2 linked regions of the Homo sapiens genome follow. The protein of the gene in region 1 interacts with the protein of each later gene in a biochemical or structural test. Each region holds a gene or a part of one and is shown on either strand. Other genes may lie near its edges.

Region 1 (8,435 bases):
TCTTTTTATGTAAGTAGAAAACTGAGCCACTATCGGAAGACCATGTGGCTTGACTTAGGGTTGGAGCAGGGTGGATGAGCTTTAAATTTATTTCTAGCTCTAATTTTCTTTGAGTCTAAATCATCCTCACTCTTTTACCTGGTTTGATGTGAGACCCACCATATGGTTTTGTGAGCTGCTTGACTAGGACGAGGTTTATAGCCTGACACTATAGACAGACATTTTCTCCCGTATATACAAAAGAAATGGCCCCAAGAAGGAATGAGCAGAATGCACTGGTCCCTTATTGTCCGTCCCAACAATCTCATCAAAGCAGAAGCGAAAATCACTCAGAGAAAGTAAAAAATTTATTCTGAGACTGCAGGTGCATAATGCCAAATAATCAAAGAAAAACCTGTCTGGGCATGGTGGCTCACGCCTGTAATCCCAATACTTTGCGAGGCCAAGGCGGGCAGATCACTTGAGGTCAGGTGTTCAAGACCAGCCTGGCCAACATGGTGAAAACTTAGCTGGGTGTGGTGGCGGGCGCCTGTAATCCAAGCTATTTGGGAGGCTGAGGCAGGAAAATCGCTTGAACCTGGGAGGTGGAGGTTGCAGTGAGCCAAGATTGTGCCACTGCACCCCAGCCTGGTGAAAAAGCGAGACTCCATCTTAAAAAAAAAAAAAAAGAAAAGAAAAATTGGCCGGGCATGGTGGCTCATGCCTGTAATCCCAGCACTTTGGAGGAGGAGGGCAGATCACGAGGTCAGGAGTTCGAGACCAGCCTGATCAACATGGTGAAACCCTGTCTCTACTAAAAATATAAAAATTAGCCGGGCGTGGTGGCTTCAAGTGACACTACCAAGGTATGAAAGGAAAATAAATCTCAAGACCCCCAAATCACTAAGCCAAAGGGAAAAGCCAAGCTGGGAACTGCATGAGGCAAACCTGCCTCCCATTTTATTCCTACATAAGACGGCTACAAAGATAAAAGGCTACATACCTCTCTCACAATTTACCCACAAGGAAACTCCTTGTGGACTTCAAGATCTTTACCCTAAAACAGTTCTGCTGAACTTCACCTTGGCAATGCAAATGGGTACAGGACAAAGGACAGAACTCAAAGTCATCCCTCTGCTCACCTGAGACAAACGCATATCTGATTGCTTCCTCTGCCCTATTGTTTTTGTAAAAATGAAGATTCAGGCCAGGCATGTTGGCTCATGCCTGTAATCCCAGCACTTCGGGGGGCCGAGGTGGGTGGATCACCTGAGGTCACGAGTTCAAGACCAGTCTGGCCAACATGGTGAAACCCTGTCTCTACTAAAAATACAAAAATTAACCAGGTGTGGTGGCAGGCGCCTGTAATCCCAGTTACTCAGAAGGCTGAGGCAGGAGAATCACTTGAACCTGGGAGGTGGAGGTTGCAGTAGCCGGGATCATGCCATTGCACTCTAGCCTGGGCAAAAAGAGTGAAACTCCGTCTCAAAAAAAAAAGTAGATTCACTGAGCCAACTAAGGCATAAGTGACTCTTCCTCTGCCCCCCTCTCATATGTAAATTGTGTATTCAGTGAAAGGCTGACAAAGACTCAGAAGAATGAAGCCTTCTCTTATCTACCTATGACCTGGAAGCCCCTACTTCGAGTTGTCCTGCCTTTCCAGACCGAACCGGTGCACATCTTACATACATTGATTAATGTCTCATGTCTCCCTGAAATGTATGAAACCAAGCCATACCTTGGCCACCTTGGACATATGTCCTCAGGATCTCCAGAGGCCGTGTCACATGTGTGTTCTTAACATTGGCAAAATAAACTTTCTAAATTGACAGACCTGTCTCAGATACTTTTGGGTTCACAAAGGAGTGCCTGACTGTTTTTTGGAATCCTTTGAAATCTACTGGCCGCTGGCTCTGCTCAGCAACGTCAGGCCCTGGGGGAAATCAAAGCCTCAGTGAACTCAAAAACCAACAAAGGGGAACTGCTATTCCCAGCTATTCCCTGGCTGCCTGGACTGTCCCAGGCCTGTGATGAAGCAGGGGGAGCCGCAGACACTGGGAGAATCCGACGCGAGTCATTGTGAAATAAACCAAGCTGGTCTTGGGGAGTCGGGCAGAGAAGGAGCATTTTGGAGACAAGGGCAGCTTTCATTTGCTCCTGAGATTTTGATCTGGGGCTTTATCATTTGATCCAGAGCTTGGAGGCTTGCATCTTTGAGAACATTTTAGGTGGAATAAATGGGTGGGCAGGATGGAGCTATTCATATCTCAATACTCACAGTGTCCCTGCCAGTGCTGGAGTCCGACTCTGCCTGCACAGGAAGCACGCACCCAGCAGCTCATGCTGACCGTCATGGATTGAGTCTAGATCCCAGAATGAGCGTTCTTGCCACAGCAAGTACTGCTAGGAAGTCACCTTTGAGGGGACTCCACCTGACAATGGTATTTGCAAGACCCCTTCCCGGGACTGCAATGCACACGCATACACACACACACGACATTTTTTCTGTCATCAAGCAGCTACAGGAGACCACCATATTATTCCCAATTGGCCACCAAACACATCCTTGTTACCACACTTCTTTGAGCTTGAGTTGTCATTAGTTACCTGGGACCTCGGCGTGTTTTCGTCTTCCCTCCCTCCCTTCCTCTCTCCCTCCCTGTGAGGTTAAGAAAATAAAGATAATAACAGTGAAAATCTGGAGAACCCCACATGCTTCCTGCAGAGTGCTTTAGGAATAAAAGACATTAATGTCAGTTTTTTCCCCTGTAATTAAAATGTCCTTTAAGGAGGACTGCACACTTGACTGATGCACCCTGGGCAAAAAGCCAGAGGGCCAAACTGACCTGTGGAGACTTGTAGGGGTGGCACCTAGGGAGATCAGAGGCATTTCTCTATCCCACGGGGTAATGTGGGGTGTGAAAGCCACCTGCTTCTCTCTCCCAGCACCTAGCAAATAGTGCTCTGGAAGTAAGTCCCCCTCTGCCCCATCCACAGCCTCAGTTCCTTTCTGGGGGTTCATCGGGGGAGGGAGGAAACTAGGGGACCCAGCGGGCCCTCCCAGCTGTCACAGGCACGTGTCCCAAGGCAGCCGATTTTGCTTTTATTGCTTGCTCGTCTTGAGGTACTCCCATAGGCTATTTGGGGCTTTTCTGTATCGTTCTTTTCACTTTCCCCTTTACTCTGTCAGCAGAGGCTTCTCCAATGAATGCAACCTCCCTAGTCTCCCTTTCCCCGACTGCCTCTCCCCTCCAAAACACTCCAGCCTATCCCAATCACATGCAAATGCAAACAGACATCTCCCCTCTGGAGTGGATTCTAGCGGATCCTCTAGTTGCCTGAATTACAAAGTTGGTCCCTTGGTTAAAGCATTCCTTCACTGGCTCAGCTTGCTGGAAAGACTTTTAAGAGAAAGAAGAGGAGACAGACCCCAAGGTACAGAAACCCGACCTACCACGGCTTGCTCCTTCCCTTTCCTCGCAGAGGTTTTCTCTCCAGCCCTGGACTCCTGTAGGATCTCAGCTCTGAGCTCCCCACAGCTCCGGCCTCCTTTAAGTTTCCAGGCAGGGGGTGGGGTCGGTGGCCCCGGCTGGGCGGGTTTCTGTGTGGCGGGAGGATGCTCAGTGGACAGGGCCATGAGGGAGCTGAGGCAGGCCTGTTTTTATAAAGCAGGGGGAGGAAGTTCACGGTGGAAGCAGCACAGCCCATCCTGGCTTCGGGCCAGGCTGATTATTCACAGCCGTGATGTCATTGAATCGCAGGAATTTGGAAGTGGGATGGGACCTTAAGAATCATCTTCCTTTAGAGTCCTAGTGTCCCAGGCTTAAAAGGGACTTTCAGGACCCTGTGATGACAAGAAGTGTTTATAATTCTAAAGGCAGCAGGTTGGGGCTGGGAGTGGGGTGTCTTCTGGAATCTGTGGCTGTAGCTCTGGCCTCTCAGGACATGAGAGGTTAAAAGGACTGGAGGATGCACAAGGATTGGAACACTTTGTGTGGTGGCGGGAGCTCAGGGGGGTAGCCACTGAGAAGGCAGGACCAGCCTTGGGCTCACCTGCGGTAGGAGGTGCCCCCATGGGGGTTTGCTCCGGTAGGCATCTTTGGCCCTGTTCTGTAATTTTAGGGAGAATCTTTCTCTTCTTTGTAAAGTGCAGGGCTGCAGTAGGTGGCCTCCGGGGACTTTCCGGCTCCAGCATCCCCTTGAGTGGGCCCAGGGAATATACACAGGGCCTTGGGGCCAACATGCCTGAAATTCGATCAAAGCCATCAGCCCTTAAGCCCACCGAAGCCTTTCAGTATTTGCTTGTAAAATGCCCCTGGAAATAGACAAGCCATTTCCCTTGCTGACACCTTTTCAGATGACTGAGAAATAAAAGCCCTGTCGTGTAGGGGAAAGTCTTAGGTTTAAATCCGGCTGTGCCAGTAACTGGGATATGACCTCAATCAAGATTTTCAACTATGCTGAGCTCTGGCTTTTGCATCTGCAGGTCACGTGAGGATCAGAGAGAAGCCACGCATGTCAGGGCCCTGGCACATCACAGGGCTCAGCAGGAGCATCTATCATCATTGGTTCATGTCTGGCTGAGACCAGACCTTGTAAAAATGAGAGAGAGGTGAAAGAAAGAACGCAGGGAGGGAAGAGAAGTTTGGCAGAGGAAATTGTGGGATGACCGACTATTCAGGAGAGGCCAGATTTCATACATTCTGATCCTAAATATACTCATATTTGTCAAACCATGAGTGCTGAGTTTGAAGTTGAAAGGCACCTAACTGCTTTTCACATTGCTTTCAAACTGTTTTTCACATTTTTATGAAGCTGCAGCCCTGCTGATGGTCATTGTAGAAAAGGGGCACTGGGGTGGGTTGCCTGCTGAGCACGGGAGGTAGACCTCCCATGAGCAGCAGCAGCTGTGGGCCTGTCTGGTGGGCATGGGGCTGCTTTCCTGCAATGTGGTCTAAGATGGTGAGGATGGAGGCTTTTTTGGGGGGTGGGGCATTGCCGTTCAGCAGGGAGTGCTGGTCATGAGGACTCTCATTTGAACTCTTGAGAGGATGGTTTTCCACTGAATGGTTGCACTTAAATCCTGGATCCTGAACCTCTATGGAAAACAATATGGAGATTTCCCAAACTAAAAATAGAACATCCATTTGACCCGGCAATCCCACTACTGAGTATCTATTCAAAGAAAAAGAAATCATTACATCAAAAAGACACCTGCACTCACACGTTTATCACACACAATTCACAACAGCACAATTCACAATAGCAAAGGCACAGAATTAACCTAAGTGTCCATCAATGGAGGACTGGATAAAGAAAATGCACATATACACCGAGGAATACGACAAAGCCGTAAAAAACAATGAAGTCTGTCTTTTGGAGCAACATGGATGAAACTGGAGACCATTATCCTAACTGAAATAACTCAGAAACAGAAAGTGAACAACCACATGCACTCACTTATAAATAGGGGCTAAACAACGGGAGACTGAGAGGAGAGGGTTTGCAGATCATTAGCAGGGGCCCTGAGCTTTGCTGAAATATACCCGAATGATTAAGACCCAGCAATATCCTGCAGCCCTAGAAACTGGGGCCTCTGTGTTCCTTCTGAATTGAGATTGGTTTCCCTCGGACAGATTCTGGGGAAGCCTGAGAATGCAGAATTAGGCATGGGCAGGCTGATAAGGTGACAATGGGAGCCTTGATTTTAGTCAAGGGATCACTTCGAGGAAAAGAAAAGAACAGAAAAAAAGGAAAAAAATCTTGGTGACCTCACATCCTGTGAACATTTCATCAAAGCCCTTCATTTTCAAAAAAGAGAAATAAATCCAGGCCTAGATAACACGGAGACAAAGTGGGCACAGAGAAACTGGACGGGGAATTGCTGCAGGGCTTTTCCCAGCCAGCCTGGCTGTTTCTGCAGTGGGCGCCTCCCCCACAGAATGCATGAGTCATGGAGGTGGCGGGGGCAGAGAACAGGGGCTGCTCCAACCCTTCTCACTGGGGCAGGTGGCAGGATGGGTATTCGAACGAGAGCCATGCTGGGACTCTGCTCAGCTGGGTAAGAAATGATGTGATGTCTCTGGAAACTCAGAGAAAGGAAGAGTGGGCAAGAAACTTGTTTTTTTTTTTTTTATTTTCTTTTTTTTTTTTTTGAGACAGAGTCTTGCTCTGTCGCCCAGGCTAGAGTGCAGTGGTGTGATCTCGGCTCACTGCAACCTCCACCAGGTTCAAGCAATTCTCCTGCCTCAGCCTCCTGAGTAGCTGAGATTACAGGTGCCCGCCACCACGCCCAGCTAATTTTTTTGTATTTTTAGTAGAGACGGGGTTTCACCATGTTGGTCAGGCTGGTCTCAAACCCCCGACCTCGTGATCCACCTGCCTCAGCCTCCCAAAGTGCTGGGATTATAGGTGTGAGCCACCGCGCCCAGCCAAGAAACTTATGACAAGGATGTTTTGGACCAGAAGACGGACATTCTGTGTCTAAACTAAGATTTAATTTTGGTAGCCATCTGGCTTTGCAGGGGATGGGGTAAATGTCATGATGGATCTAAAATCGGTGTTATTGTCGCACGCCTTGTCTAGGTCTCCATCTAGACTGGGAATCCCCGGCCCTGGGGCCATGGGCTGGTATCTGTCCGTGGCCTGTTAGGAACCAGGCTGCGCAGCAGGAGGTGAGTGGCTGGAGAGCCAGTGAAGCTTCATCTGTGTTTACAGCCGCTCCCCATCACTCGCATTACTGCCTGAGCTGCACCTCCGGTTGGATCAGCAGTGGCACTAGATTCTCATAGGAGTGCAAACCCTATTGTGAACTGTACATGCGAGGGATTGAGGTTGTGCACTCCTTATAAGAATCTAATGCCTGATGATCTGTCGCTGTCTCCCATAACCCCCAGATGGGACCATCTAGTTATAAGAAAACAAGCTCAGGGTTCCCACTGATTCTACATTATGCTGAGTCATACCATTATTTCATTATATAATACAATGTAATAGTAATATAAATAAAGTGCACAATAAATGTAATCCTCTTGAATCATCCCGAAACTATCTCCCCTCCCTCTGTCCGTGGAAAAGCTATCTTTACAAAACTGGTCCCTGGTGCAAAAAAGACTGAGGACCACTGATCCAGACTAGACGCCCATGGTGGTAACAGCACCAGTTGTGTGAATTCCACACAAACAATGAGAAACATCAAAACAGGACAAGCTGAAGGCATGGGAAGGACTCTTACAAATCTTATTCTTGTTAAGAGCTGTTCACCAAACTGTAGGAGGAGGTCTTTATTCTTGCAACTCTTTGGTAAGTTTGAAATTATTTCAAAATATTAAGTTAAAAATTGGATTATTTTCTTGGAGCAGTAATTTTTTGAATATTTAGCCTGCTGACATGCATTTTTTAAATCCCCATACAAGATAATGATAAGTATTCAACATTGTTTTGACTGTCTAAATACTGAAAATAACTTAGATGTCAAAACATAGGGGCCTAGTAGACTAGGACATGTTAGAATACTGCAATATTGTGTAGCCATTGAGATGACTGATAACATAATTATACCGACATACCAAAATAAATCATAAAATTGCCTTGCCCAAAAGAAGAAGAAAATAAATTTGTACATGAGCTGTGATATAAATAATGTAGATCAGGCATGGTGTCTCACACCCATAATCCCAGCCCTTTGGGAGACCGAGGCAGGCAAATCACTTGAGATCAGGAGTTCGAGACCAGCCTGGCCAACATGGTGAAACCCCATCTCTACTAAAAACACAAAAATTAGTCAGGCATGGTGGCGGGCACCTGTAATCCCCGCTACTCGGGAAGCTGAGGCAAGAGAATCACTTGAACCTGGGAGGTGGAGGTTGCAGTGAGCCAAGATCGTGCAACAAGAGTGAGACTCCATCTCAAAAAATAATAATAATATAAACACTACATAGATGTATGGATAGAGATTAGAAGATAAAACTAGGTGTTGGAGTACTGTCATTATTGGTCAATTGTTTTTCAGTTCCTTTAGTGATGCTTCTAAATGACTTTCATAAAAGTAGATGTACTGGCTCCACACTGGGTGTGCCCAGCCCAACACTCTCTCTCTGGCACTGGAAGGACCTGGTTGTTCATGGAAGCGTGTCAGAAGAATAGGAATTTTCCTTAATAACTTATGATGGAGTATCCATGAGTTTATTCAAGTTATTTTTGAACACATCTAATTTTCAATCAATTCCTTTGTGGAGTGAGTTGAGTTTCTCAGGTTGGTTTGCTGATTCTCCGACACAGAACTTTCTTTCTCTGCTCCTAAATCTACCTCTTTTGAGCCTCCTAACACATCGCCAGCTATCAATCTTCAAATACACCCCCGTGGTGAATGTGCAGGCTACTGGAATGAGCCTGGGGTTGGAAGTCAGAAAGTTTCCTTTCTCTCCTCTGAGGTCAGTTGCACGACTCTGGTCCAG
Region 2 (7,562 bases), on another chromosome or scaffold:
AGGAAGGAGAAAGAAAGAAAGAAAGAAAGAAAGAAAGAAAGAAAGAAAGAAAGAAAGAAAGAAAGAGAAAAAAGAAAGAAAGAAACTAGCTTGTAAATATGCCTAATTTTATTTTGGTTACAGTTTAATCTGTGAGTTCAAAACCTATGGGGCATTTGACTTTTGGATAATGTTATGCCCTGCAGCCTTCCATGAATGCCAGTTAAGATGTCCTAATAGCAATTAGTAATCCCAAAGAAATATAGAAGAAGAACTTTCTTTGGAATTTTAAAGGTGTAATTTGGAGTTAAAATAGTTGGTTTGATTGCATTTCAATTATTTTATAACATCCTTAATCAAGGGACTTGAACATATTGGATTTTCTTACTGATGAGCTTTTCTTTTTAATCTATAGATTTGAAATGGTTCCTAAGCTGTTTTGGGTCAACAGGATCACTCACTTGCCAGCTAGTGTTGCATCACTGATTTTAAATGTCAAGTGTTTGTGAAGGTGTAAAAAGGCAAAGCAAAACTTGAGAAACTGAGGACTCCCTAGACTCGCTGTCCATGCCCAGAGTGAATGCAATGTTTCCTAACCCTAATGAGTAGACTGTGAGAATGACGTAGCTTGACCCTATATTTTAAATTTAAAAATCTACCTAATCAGCTCAGTGGAGTCTGGGAGTTGAATTCCCAGCTCTGTGTCTTTGAACAAGTTCCTTGACCTCTCAGTTTTCACCTTTACAAAGCAGAAACAAAAATATCAACTCAAAGAGTCTGACCCATCCTACTTTCAGTATATACTGTTGAAAAGAACACATTTAAATTCTTGTTTTTAATCCAAAATTCTGACTTATTTTGTGACCTTAAACAATCTCAGTTAACATCTTTTACTTTGAAAAAATAACGAAAACAAAAGCTCCCTCTTAAAATTTTCAGGGATATTATGAAGGTATGTGTTTCTACACTAAGTACTTTGGGATGAAATTGTCATAGATATAAGCGGATATCATATTTATTTAGGATTTTTGTTGTTTCTGTTATAAAGTCAAAGCAGTAAATATGTAATACTTACTATTGGCTGAGGAAAAATCGCCTCTCAAAATTTCCATTATATTAGTGGTCAACGAATGAGAATCCTTATTGTTCTTCTGATATTCAAATAGTGAATTTTTGAGCTTATTTATTCTGTTTGTAAAATCTTGATTGACTTCATCAATCAACCCTTTCATCCTGCAGCCAGAAGGGCATTTGTAGTTCTGAAAGTGAAGGGAGAAAATTACAGTAAGGATCTATCTCTCAGATTCAGAATAATTTTGCATGTTTCCATGCAGCCCCCATTTCTTCCTACCCTATCTCTTCCAGATAAGTTGGCTTAAAAGTAGGTAAGAGGACTAGTTAGAGGTCGCAGAGAAACTCTGGAATGAGGGTCCACTTAGCCATAAATTAGGTGCCAGGAAATTGAGGCCACAATACTCAGGAGCCTGGTTTTGCCTGAGCATGCAACTGAAATCCTGTCTGTTCACCCACTAATGATCCAGAGTTGGGGAGGTAAATAAACAGTGCTCTTGGGAGTAGGTTCCTTTTCTTTATTTGCTATGTAGGTAACTATTCAATTATTTTCTATTTAAAAAAGTTTCTGGGACCAATCAGGTCAGCCTGTGAGCCCCTCTAGCATCAGAGGGAAGGAATCTCCTGCTTCCCCCGCTGACTGCTTACCCAGTCTTCATCAGAGCAGAAGGGCCAGTCTGAATCTTTGCAGGCAGATTGATGTCTTTCCACAACCCTTGGGCCACGCACGCCTCCTCCTTCAGCTAGAAAGTCACCTTCACCACTATCTGCAGTCTTTAAAGATTCATTCACATACACAAAAGAGAGCAACAGCAATGTTAGCCAGAAGAGGAGACAGTGGCATGCCTACAAGTCCCCAGGAAGAGATGGCACTCTCACAGAGATTAAGGAGAGCAGACACAGGGCTTCGGCAAGCTTCAGGTTTCTTATCTTCAAATGGAAATCCTAGGACCCATTTTATGGAGTTGTTATGAGAATTAAAGGAGACAAGGTGTACAAATTTCTTAACTGTGTGTGACACTTAAATAAGCATTTGATAAATATTAGGAGTTTTAAAGAATCCATCCTAAAAGGAAAATTATTTGAATCTATAAAATCAGTTAAATTTTACCTTTTCATTTTTACTAATGACTGCAGACAGAAAGTTGAAAACTACTGTAGAGCTCTTTCTCCTGTAATTGCTGCTTCAGTAGAAAAACCTAGACTATCTTAACTGAATGTTCCTCTCTCCTTCAAGTTTCTATGTAACCTTTAGAGATGGATTCATAATTTAAAAGAATACCATTACTGCGGAAAAGCGTATTGCCTTACTAACTAATCTCTTCTGATACTGCAAAGATATTTCCAAAGATAATTCGTTTGCTTTTTCTTCTGTCTTGACAAACACAACAATAACCTTTCAGCAAAACTGTACTAACACTAAAAGTTCTGCTTATTATGGACAAGTAGCAAGAAATTAATAACTAAAGAAAACAAATCTTACCATAAAATGTTTTATTCCATTAACTAGCATTATAATGCACCAAGGCTTTATAGGTACAAGGATGGCAAATAATTCTTGCCCTTTTTAAAACAAAACAAAACAAAATGTGGTAAGACTGAATGACAGATGCTAAAGTTTCCCTTGTGAGTTTGTACACTCTCATCCATCTAAGATCTTCCTCTTGGTGTCATATTACCCTGTATTCTTGAGGTGTCAAGCCCACCCAGGAAATTTCCTCCCAGGCCTGGGGTCATAAAGCTAAGAGTGTGTCAGGACATAGAGCAGGTAGACTCTGACCTCCAGGCTCTTTGTGGAATAAACACCAGAGAGAAAGCAAGAAGAAAAAATGAAAAGGGCCATACCCATGCTGTGCCCACCACACTTAGGACCAGGCAGACGATCCTCATGGAAAACATCTTTTCTAAGGGTGGGGCTGGCTCCTGAGGAGCACTCCAGCTGAAAGAAAGGATTGCTGCCACTCCTAGTTCCCATCCTATTTAAATCTGCAAGAGGTTTGGTTAATCATTGGCTTTGTCCTGTGTAGACAGTCAACCCTCCCTCTACGTCCTTTGTTCCTCCTATGCTGTTGGTATCCCAGAAATTCTTGCTCAATTCCCCTCAGCTTGTTTGCTTCCGATAAGCTGTTGCAAAGGTAGCATTTGATTCTCCAGTCAACAATTAGGAGATCTCACATTCCAGGAACAGGGTGGCTTTGAGAATGAAAAGAGGAGCATAGGAGGGTATATCCATATTTCTAAACGTGAAAGAATATAGAAGGTGCTTAGGTAAGCTAGCTGTAGCCCCCAGTAGTAGTGATTTAGCAAACAATATTTCACTTTATGCAGAAATTAGGGTTGGGTGATCTGGCTTATAAAAAAAATAACTTTGGGGATAAGCTGGCCCTGAAGGCTTTCTATAAGTTTATTTAGAACATATTACTTTTCTCTATTTAAAATATTAAGATGACAGCAGCCCCAGGAACAAAACATCTTGGGTTCATAATCCAAGCTGCACCACTTCCCTGCTCTATGTTCTTGGACAAGTTACTTTACCTCTTTATACTTCAGTTTCCTCATTTATAAAATAAGGATGCTGATAAGCTACCCCATGCTTTTATGAAGAATAAATGAGTTAATTCTTGTAAATCTCTCAGAACAGTGACTGTCACATAGGAAATACTCAGTGAATTATGGGAGATCATAAAGTGCCATGAAAAATACCATTTATTTCCTGTTTCTGTGCTAGCAATCTCATTTCTGAGTGTATTTCCAAAGGAAATGAAATCAGGATCTTGAAGAGACACCTGCATTCCCATGTTCATTGTAGCTATATTGACAATAGCCGAGATATGAAAACAACCTGTTTCCACTGATGGATGAGTAGATAAAGAAAATGTGTATATATATATATACACAATGGAGTATTACTCAGCCTTGAAAAAGAAGGAAATTCTGTCATTTGCAGTAACATTGATGAACCTAGAGGGCATTATCCTAAGTGAAATGAGCAGATATAGACAGACAAATACTGCTTAGCTGGTCGTGGTGACAGGCACCTGTAATCCCAGCTACTCAGGAGGCTGAGGCAGGGAGAATCACTTGAACGCGGGAGGTGGAGGAGGTTGCAGTGAGCCGAGATTGCATCATTGCACTCCAGCCTGGGCCACAGAGTGAGACTCCTTCTCAAAAAAAAAAAAAAAAACGGAAAAGAAAGACAAATACTGTATGATCTTTCTTACATGTGAAATCTAAAATAGTCAAACTCACGGAAGAAAAGTGTAGAATGGTGGTGGCCAGGGCCTGAGGCATAGGAGAAATGGGGGAGATGTTGGTTAGAGGGCACAAAGTTTGAGCTATGCAATATAAATAAGTTCTGGAGTCCAATGTGCAGCATGGTGACTATAGTTGATAATATTATGCTGTATATTTGAAATTTGCTAAAAAGGTAGATCTTAAGTCTTCTCACCACACAAAAAGATAACTATATGAGGTGTTTTAAGTGCTAATTAGATTAATAGTGGTAATCATTTCACAATGTTTATGTGTATCAAAACACCAATCAGAGAGAAGTTCCCCTTTAAAGGAAAATAAAAAAACAAACATCCAGCTGTACAACCTAAATTATGCAATTTTTATTTGTCAATTATACTTCAATAAAGGTAAAAAACATCTTCAGCTTACATTTACCAGATGTATTAGGTTGGCGGAAATAGCAAATAAAAATAAGAGTGTCCCAGTTAAATTTGAATTTCAGATAAACAACAAATCTATTTGAGTATAAGTATGTCTCATGTGATATTTGAGACACACTTAAAATTTTTTTGTTGTTCATCTGAAATTCAAACTTTACTGGACATCCTGTACTTTATCTGGCAATCCTACCTTGCCTCAAATTCTGCTTCCTACATGAAGCCAATCCTAATAGAGTAATAGCTAATGTGTATTGAATGTTTACTAAGTCTTGGGTTCTTTGCTAGACATTTTGCAGGGTACCTGATTCAATGTCCAATTAAAAGGAATCTCATGTTCTTTCATACTTCCTTAGACTGTGCACCACTAATGGCATTTATCATTATAGGAGTACCGTCTGTCTCCTCCACTAGATCATAAACTTGAGAATTGAAATGTTTTATTGGTCTTTATATTCTCCCCAAAAGGTGTGGGCCCTCATTGAGCAAGAAAGCATAAGTGGGTTCCAGAGATGCGAAGTTGCCTGGCTGCCTCCCCCAGCACTGCAGACGTGTGAAGCTTTCTATAAATGGATGGAAGCCCTGGTGCAAGGCAGTGCACTGTCTGCTCTATGGAAGACTCCTTGTCTGATCAAGCTCACCCCTGAAGCAGCTTGCTATGATTTTAGAGTTAACTGCAGAGCAAAGAGGAAGCCCCAGAGCCCCATCCAGGTTCCAGAGGGCAATGATTCCATGAAAAGCTGGGTTACACTCACTCACAATGACTGCACTGGCAAAATGTCAGGATTAGATAGGAAGGTGAGGCTTGATCTCTGCACACATTTTCCTATGCCCACAAGAAGTGCCCCTTTGGGAGGTGAACATGGTATATAGCAAAGAAGTTCCCGAGAGTAACCTGGTAGGCCTTAGGTGAGTCGGCTGAACATAATCTGATTGAAGGTAAATTAACAGAAAACAATTTGGTTGAATGCCACCACCCTAGTGCCATGTCAGGGTGTTTCCAAGGATGCCACCTGAGGGCTTTATCCTTGCCTCTCAGAATCAGCACATCTCACACCCTTTCTTACTCCTGGCCTCTGCTCACATGGCATCTACTCAGAGAGGCCTTCTCTGGCCACCTGATCTAAAGAGCTGCCACTCTCGCATGTCATTCCATTGACTCTGCTTGGTTTTTCCACGCAGTACCTTATAACTCCTGGACAATGTGCATTTGGGAAGGTATTTGTTTATTCTGTGTCTTGCCTACACAAAGCTTCCTGAGGCCAAGGCACAAGGACTGGCACAAATGTCAGGCATAGAGCAATTGCTGCTCAGTATCTGCTGGAGAAATGGAAGGCTGTCACCATATGGTGGTGACAATGCATGGTGGGCTTTCCAGCATGTGAGACCTGGATTCCAGCTAAGTGACATGGGCAAACTATTTAAATTCTCTGAGCTATAAATGGGATGATGATATTTGTCTTACAGGATTGCTGTGAAGATTATGTAAAATGGTGTATGTAAAATGTTGGCCATACACAGCAGGAGCTCTAGAAACAGTAGCTTTTATTGTTCCTAGAATATCCCAATGCTCCATGATAAAATGTTCCCTTGTTTTGACTGTAGTACCAGGAGTCCCTAATGAGGCACTTCTGTAGCTCACTGTTTGGCCCCACACTGCAGGCTGCTCACTAGGCTGGGCTCTCTGCCCCATGAACAGGCTGTATTGTAAGCTTTGGAGGAGTAGGTTTTGTTTAGCTGGAAAACCATGCAAATTAATAGGCATGATACGAGTATCATTTTTTAAAAAGCATGTGACAATAAGCGTATCTTTAAATGTGCAAAACTGGAAAAAAGATGGAAGAAATTTTCAGTTGCTTAAATTATAATCTGCCGTGCATTGGCTTTTTCTTTTTGAGATGGAGTCTCACTCTGCCACCCAGGCTGGAGTGCAACAGCGCCATCTCAGCTTACTGCAACCTCTGCCTCCCGGGTTCAAGCGATTTTCCTGCCTCAGCCTCCTGAGTAGCTGGGATTACAGGTGCCCACCACCATGACTGGCTAATTTTTTGTATTTTTAGTAGAGATAGGGTTTCCCCATGTTGACCAGGCTGGTCTTGAACTCCTGACCTGAGGTGCTCCACCCACTTCAGCCTCCCAAAGTGCTGGGATTACAGGCATGAGCTACTGCACCAGGTTTGTCTTTTTCCTATAGATAACTACATCCTATTTACCTTAGCTCTAATGAGAAGGATGTTTGATATATCTATCCTTTTGAAGTTAATGTAATATAAACATTTAAATATAAATGTTAATATAAACATTTGAATGCAGGAATTTACACATTTGTTATGCCATAACTTTTGGCATGACTAGAATAGTTTTTACTAGTTTTAATAGCTTTATTTGTGTGGTATATAATGTATACAGAAAGAGTAGAAATTCTATAGCTATATGTTTCAGTTTTAAACTATATCTACTCATCACAGCTTCCACAGGAAAAGTAAAATATATAACCAGTTATCTATATATTTGCAATTGTATAAATACAACTTAAAAATACAAAACAAAACAACAGTGTTATTTTGAATGGAATATTTGTCTTACCCTGGGCTGACACCAGAAATTAAATGCATTGATTTCTGAGAGCAGCTCACTCATTCACTCATTTGTCTAAATTTAGCAATCATTTATCCTATGTATATTATTTCTCTAGTCCTGCATACTATGTGCTTAAGATAAAAAGGCAAACAATGTATAGTCTTTTACCTTCAAGTTGCTTACAATTGGCAAGCAAGTCAAATACGTTATGCAGCTGAGAATTAAGTTAAACTATGTAAACTTGACATTTTTGTAGGTCAA

Evidence for each region.
Region 2: the proteins of PLAT (region 1) and FGA form a complex in vitro, tested with the Homo sapiens proteins (2 studies listed by BioGRID).

What each region holds. Positions count from the first base shown.
Region 1 is NC_000008.11:42,204,061-42,212,495, forward strand, and holds the start of PLAT (tissue-type plasminogen activator isoform 1 preproprotein), read right to left. Parts: upstream 3,506-8,435; 5' UTR 3,434-3,505; intron 1-3,433. UniProt on the Homo sapiens protein: Converts the abundant, but inactive, zymogen plasminogen to plasmin by hydrolyzing a single Arg-Val bond in plasminogen.
Region 2 is NC_000004.12:154,587,739-154,595,300, forward strand, and holds the start of FGA (fibrinogen alpha chain isoform alpha precursor), read right to left. Parts: upstream 3,005-7,562; 5' UTR 2,950-3,004; coding exon 2,896-2,949; intron 1,825-2,895; coding exon 1,699-1,824; intron 1,239-1,698; coding exon 1,055-1,238; intron 1-1,054. UniProt on the Homo sapiens protein: Cleaved by the protease thrombin to yield monomers which, together with fibrinogen beta (FGB) and fibrinogen gamma (FGG), polymerize to form an insoluble fibrin matrix. Fibrin has a major function in hemostasis as one of the primary components of blood clots.